Homo sapiens: one gene and its partner. The protein of the gene in region 1 purifies or fractionates together with the protein of each later gene. This does not show direct contact. Each region holds a gene or a part of one and is shown on either strand. Other genes may lie near its edges. The genes, in order: MATN3 and DNAJC10.

What was found.
Region 2: the proteins of MATN3 (region 1) and DNAJC10 purify together in Homo sapiens (co-immunoprecipitation; one large-scale study listed by IntAct). This does not show direct contact.

What each region holds. Positions count from the first base shown.
Region 1 is NC_000002.12:20,002,592-20,006,419, reverse strand, and holds part of MATN3 (matrilin-3 precursor), read left to right. Parts: intron 1-109; coding exon 110-676; intron 677-1,613; exon of another isoform or gene 1,614-2,400; intron 2,401-3,133; coding exon 3,134-3,259; intron 3,260-3,828. UniProt on the Homo sapiens protein: Major component of the extracellular matrix of cartilage and may play a role in the formation of extracellular filamentous networks.
Region 2 is NC_000002.12:182,789,024-182,792,205, reverse strand, and holds part of DNAJC10 (dnaJ homolog subfamily C member 10 isoform 1 precursor), read right to left. Parts: 3' UTR 1-3,182. UniProt on the Homo sapiens protein: Endoplasmic reticulum disulfide reductase involved both in the correct folding of proteins and degradation of misfolded proteins.

The DNA of each region.
Region 1 (3,828 bases):
GGGGTCAGGAGATGCTGCCTTGCCTGGCCTCCTGGAATCCCAGAGTTCTCTGGAAGTGAGGATTACTGCATTTCTAATTGTGGTCTGATCATTGCTTGGTCTTTTGCAGGTGTTTGCAAGAGCAGACCCTTGGACCTGGTGTTTATCATTGATAGTTCTCGTAGCGTACGGCCCCTGGAATTCACCAAAGTGAAAACTTTTGTCTCCCGGATAATCGACACTCTGGACATTGGGCCAGCCGACACGCGGGTGGCAGTGGTGAACTATGCTAGCACTGTGAAGATCGAGTTCCAACTCCAGGCCTACACAGATAAGCAGTCCCTGAAGCAGGCCGTGGGTCGAATCACACCCTTGTCAACAGGCACCATGTCAGGCCTAGCCATCCAGACAGCAATGGACGAAGCCTTCACAGTGGAGGCAGGGGCTCGAGAGCCCTCTTCTAACATCCCTAAGGTGGCCATCATTGTTACAGATGGGAGGCCCCAGGACCAGGTGAATGAGGTGGCGGCTCGGGCCCAAGCATCTGGTATTGAGCTCTATGCTGTGGGCGTGGACCGGGCAGACATGGCGTCCCTCAAGATGATGGCCAGTGAGCCCCTAGAGGAGCATGTTTTCTACGTGGAGACCTATGGGGTCATTGAGAAACTTTCCTCTAGATTCCAGGAAACCTTCTGTGGTAAGTTGGTCAGTCTTTGCTTCCAACTAGAAAGGATGTTATATTCAGACATTGTGTACCCAGAGAAAAGAGTATTATTCTTTTTTGGTGGAAATTTAATGAAAAACTTAAATATATCCAATGCGTGTGTGTGTGTGCACGTGTGCATGCGCGCGTGTGTGCGACCAACCTAAACACACTCTATTGGTTTAGGAATATAGAGCTGCATTATATGGAACTTGGTTTGCTCATAAAATCTTCATGTTTGCGTTAGAACTGTGAAGGTCTGCAAATATCCAGGATAAATGACCCTGCTGTTCCCTGTCAGGGTCAGGAAAAACAAAACTCAAGATGCCTCTCCTGTCCCCTCTGCCCCACCACTACATTTTTTTCCCCTGATACATATTTTTTTAGTTTTACCATCTCTAGATCTAACAGAACTCTGTTTGTTCTCCTGCAGAAGACAGGGAGAAGCGTCTGTCCTTGGGAGAGTCAGCAGGCCTCTATTCCAATGTCACCGTCAGCCCGAGTGTGCATTTAGTGAATGCTCTGGTTTTCAGACTGGGCTGTTTATCTGATTACTCTTTGTTGAAGAACAGGATTCAGGGACCAGGCAGATTAGGGTTTCAGCTCACTTGAAAGAAAGCAAGATGATCTTAAGAAATCATTCTGTTAACTCTGCTACTCCTTCCATCCTTTAGGATGGAATTTGAATAAGGACATGCTAATTTTATTGGAATTTTTAGCATGAATTGACCAAATCTAGGACTACAGATCCATTCAATGCTGGAGTTTAATTTTAGTCACTGATCAGAATTATGATCTGTGGGACTCATGCTTTATTTTTTTATCATCTGGAGATAATCTTTTGTTCCCTCTATGTGAATATCCAAGCAGTTGTGGACAAATTTCTAGTTCAGGTGAATTTTTAAACATAGATATCTTTTTGCAATATAATTTATTTCACACTTATTTATTCAGCATGCATTTATTGATCTCTGATGATACAAAGATAAAGGTAATCCCTCCATACCATTAAGTAACATTCTGGGGGTGGGGGTGAGACAAACAAATGAACCAATAATTAATTACAATTATACATTTCAAGGAGACTTTTAATCTAGGTTAATGTGAAACGCAGCCATCAATGGTTTGTCAGGAAAAGGGAGATGAAGTCTTGCTCTGGGGCAACGTTTGGCCTCATTGCAGTCAGACTTGGCTGGGATCCCCTTGTCTTTCCTGTCCCAGGACACTGGGCTTTCACAAGCCATCACTGGCTTTGGTGGCATCTACTTGGCATTCGTTGGCTTCCAAAAAGAAAGTGGCTTTCTTTCTCCCAGGAAATCACCCTCCCACTCCATGCTTGTGGGTGAGAGCCTCTCCATCAACATGCTGGTCTGTGGCAAAGTTGGGTTTCAAAGCTAGCACCTGGGGTTGGGCTTCGAAGGCTATAAAGTAACAAGTGGTGAGTGGCAATCTTTTCCTTCTGGTACAAAAGACCTGCTTGTTCTGGGGGAAAAACGTCCTCTCTATGGAAAAAAGACTGAGCGGCAGCTTGTTGTAGTCAACGGGTTGGAAAGATCATTCCATGAAAAGGCCCTTCTTGGGAAAATATTAGCCTTGTCCTGTTGCCAAGGGCAGTGGAGGTTGGGTTACCTGCCACAGGAGGGCCAGCCTCCTTCAACAGGCCTCCTTGGTTTCTCAGAAATGACTTAATTCATTGATTCATCTTTCAAAAGAGGTCACTAGGAAAAAAATATCCAATGAGATATAAATGGCTCCAGGAGCAATAAGATGGAGATGTAGTTTAGCTAATGTAATCTCATTTATTTTGTTCTTTTCTTTTTACCTGTTTGTATTAGCATATGAGTTCACTATGGATTTAGCGTATGGATGACTTCACCCACCTTACATATTCAGAAGACAGTTACCCGAACTGTCCTCTACCATTTGCATGTTCAAATATGTACCACTGCCCACCTGTGAGTTCGTTCTAGGCTTAGACCCAGACTTGTGTGAGAATTCTGTTTAGACATAGGCTATAGAACCTTGGAAATCAGATTCTGGCTACAATGGGACAACTAGCTCACGTCACTTCAGGCTGTGCATTTATTGTTCTCCCATTTCTTGTGGTGGGGAAGCACAAATCTTTTTTTCATGGGGAGGCGGATAAGCCAAATAAAACATCCAATTGCCTGGCCTATGTAAGTGTTTGGCTTCAGCTCCAAACTCCAAATTCCCTTTCTCCCTTGAGAAAGTCTATATAGCAAGATGTGTACTTTTAAATTAGCAACAATTTCTAGTTTAAGAGTAGCATTGCTAATAAGCCAGAGGCAGAAAACAAATAACCATTTTTTTATAGTGAAGTAAAGATGGACTCGGAAAGGAGCCCAGAGAGCAATGTCTATTGACATGGGAGACGGTATCTGAGATGTTTCCTAAGTGTCAGTGCTGACTGTTGTAAACTTCCTCTCACAGCGCTGGACCCCTGTGTGCTTGGAACACACCAGTGCCAGCACGTCTGCATCAGTGATGGGGAAGGCAAGCACCACTGTGAGTGTAGCCAAGGATACACCTTGAATGCCGACAAGAAAACGTGTTCAGGTGAGGCCTGTGTAGGGGGCCGTGACTGAATCAAATACTTGGGAACCTATGCTCCAGGTTTTGGACTGGCCTTGTGCTTTGACTCTCTGACCCCTTTTTACCTAACTGCCTTTTGGCTGGTTTACTGGTGTTCATCAGCAGTTTTCCCTGAAAAGGAGCTTAGGGAGAAAAGTGAAATGATAGATAAATCAGCTTATTTCCATACTTTGTAAGTTTTAAATAAAATCGTAGGAGAAAAGGCTACTAAGAAAGAGGTCCAGGCTGAGTGCAGTAGCTCATGCCTATAATTCCCACATTTTGGGAGGCTGAGATGGTAGGATAGTTTGAGGCTAATTCGAGATTAGCCTCGAGAACATGGTGAGACCCCATCTCTACAAAAAATAATTTAAAAAAAAAAGCCAGGTGTGGTGGTGCATGCCTGTAGTCCCAGTTACTTGGGAGGCCGAGATGGGAGGATTGTTTGAGACCAGGAGGTCGAGGCTGCAGTGAGCTATGATAATGCCTCTGCTGCACTGCCACAGAGGGAGACCTTCTTTCAGAAAACAGAACCCACACACACAAAAAGGAAA
Region 2 (3,182 bases), about 160 Mb from region 1:
ATTGTTCACTGATGGTATGCAAGCATTTGTGAGGATTACTTATAAATTGACTTGAGCATCTCTTTTTTCTTTAATTTACTCTTTGAACATGTATTGAGTGTCAAGATGATGGCATGAAAAGTGAACAAGATTGTGTCCTGGCTTTGAAAGTTCATGCACTCTAGGACAGGGAAACATACTAATCAACAGGACTGAACTTATAAGGTGTTTCAGGATCCAATTCTCTGATTCTCTAGATTATTGCATTGTTTAGAGTTAAATTTAAAATGTGTATCTTCAATATGTTGTAAAATGCAAAACATAACTTTTAAACGCTTTAAACATCCATTGTTGAAATGTAAGATGCAATTTAGATTTTTTAGTATCTATTTCCATATTGCAATTAATTAAACGATAACTGCAAATCTTATCATGTATTAGAAACATGTGACTGAAATGACTAAACTCCTGTTTTTGAGGTGTCTTATCCACATTAGAGTGTTATAAAATGTTGTATACAGTTTGTATGCCCAAATACTGGATTTATTAAACAGAAAATAAATGAGAGGTAGAATAAAGTAGTCATTGTTGGAGCCAGGTTTCACTTGTCAAGAAAGAGTTCACAGAGGCCAGTTTGAAGAATATCTTGAAACTCATTAAACTGAAAAAGTTTTGACCAATATTTTGCTAACAACTATATAATCATTATGGACAGAGCTACTTTCCCCAGCATAGTTTCAGAAACACACGTTGACTTCTAGCTGGGCTGAAGTTTTAAAGTTTAAGATGTTTATATACTTTTAAAATTTCATTTTAGAGTAACCCATTTTATACTAATTTGGCCAGAATAGTATTCAAAAATATTGTGTATAAATGGCCACCTGAATACATATCTCTCTTAATTTTTAACTTTTGAGGCTGGGTGAGTTTCTATGTTAAGGTTTATTCACACCAAGGCATACTAGTTTTTGTTGCCAACTAGTTATGATTCAGGAGGACTGAAAACTAAGCTCTAGAGTTACTTTAATTGGAGAATTACTGCTTGGATTTAAATTTTATGGCTTGATCTCATAATGAATGAATTGCCCTACTTCTGAGGGAACACATTTCATGCAGGGTCGATCTCTGTGGGGGTATTTATCCACTAAATTTATGTAGTGAATATTTTATCCCAAATGAAGAAATTAAAAAAATATTTACTTGAAAATAAGTCATAACATTTAAATATCAAAATAGTGAACAAAGAGAGAAGGAGCATAGACAGTTGAACAGGAGGGTAAAAGAGAATATGGTTACTTGGAAGAAATAAGAGAATAAAGCAAAGGAAAAGTCAGAAAATAAGTCAGCTTAGTAGGCAATGTAACTGATAAGTAAGGTTATTTGATTTTAGTGTTAGAAGGCATAATTATTACTATTGTAATTTTTTTTTTTTTTTTTGAGATAGAGTTTCACTCTTGTTGCCCAGGCTGGAGTACAGTGACGTGACCTCAGCTCACTGTAACCTCTGCCTCCCGGGTTCAAGCGATTTTCCTGTCTCAGACTCCCAAGTAGCTGGGATTACAGGCGTGCACCACCACGCCTGGCCATTTTTTTTTGTATTTTTAGTAGAGACGGCGTTTCACCATGTTGGCCAGGCTGGTCTTGAACTCTTAACCTCAAGGGATCCACCCGCCTCGGCCTCCCAAAGCGCTGGGATTTCAGGTGTGAGCCACTGTGCCTGGCCCTTACTATTGAATTTTAGAAAAGGGAAAAGGTGCTTCATTAGATATTCGCTTTTACATCTGACATTTTATATAGCAGGTTTAAACACATTTAAGTATTGTTCAGTTCTGTAAGACCAAGGTATTAGATTTGCAGTTTTCTCAAGTTTCACATGCAGAAAGTCATGTAAACTAAACGAATAAGCTAGAAGCATTTAGCACCCAAAGTACTTCAGCAAATCTTGAAGTTTATAAGTATAAAATAAATTTCTTCTGCTCTTGAAGACCTAACAATCTAGTTTGGAAGATAACATATGGAATAATCAGAGAATAATATAGGACTAAATAAAGCTTTTTCTTATAAACAAATACTTAGTTTTGTGGTAGACAATGAGGAACTTTTAGAAATTCAGAAATCAATGTGAAGTAAAGAAGTCAGCAAAGGCTTTACAGTGGAAGTTGGATTTGGGATTTAAGTTAGATTTTGGGTTTACAGGATGAGGTGAAGGATGAAAAGGGCATCCAAATGGGAAAGTAATACAAAGCATGGTATGAGAATGTAAAATAACCAACTTCCCACAAAGTACTTTGATATGGAAAAAGTAATAATTTAAAGACTCTAAAAGTACAAATCAAAACTCCAATGGGATATGAACGCACACTCATTGGGATACCTACTATTTAAAAAAAATGAGTGTTGGTGAGGATGTGGAAAAATCAGAACTCTTGTGCACTATTGGTGGGAATGTAAAATGGTGCAGCTGCTATGAAAAACAGTATGGAGGTCCCCCCATATTAAAAATAGAATTACTATGATATAGACTTACACTTCTAGGTATATAGCTGAAAGAACTGAAAGCAGGGTTTCTGATATTTGTACACCCATGTTTATAGCAGCATTATTTGCAATGGCCAAAGGGTGAAGGCAGCCTATCAACGGACGAATAACAAAATGTAGAATGTATATATAATTGAATATTATTCAGCCTTAAAAAGGAAGAAAATTGGCTGGGTGCGGTGGCTCACGCCTGTAATCCCAGCACTTTGGGAGACCAAGGCAGGCGGATCACCTGAGGTCAAGAGTTCGAGACCAGCCTGGCCAACACACTAAAACCTTGTCTCCGTTAAACATACAAAAATTAGCCAGCGTGGTGGCACATGCCTGCAGTCCCAGCTACTTGGGAGGGTGAGGCAGGAGAATCGCTTGAACCTGGGAGGTGGAGGTTGCAGTGAGCTGAGATCACACCACTGCACTCCAGCCAGGGGGACAGAGTAAGACTCCGTCTCAAAACAAGAAAATTATGACACATGCTACAACATGGGTGAGTCTCGAGGACTTACGCTAAGTAAAATAAGGAATCACAAAAAGATAAATGGTGTATGATTTCACTTACATTAAATATCTATGGTAGTCATATTGATAGAAAGTAGGGTGGTGGTTGTCAGGGTCTAGCAGCATTGGTAAATAAAAAGGTTTTGCTTTATGGATATAAAATTTCAGTT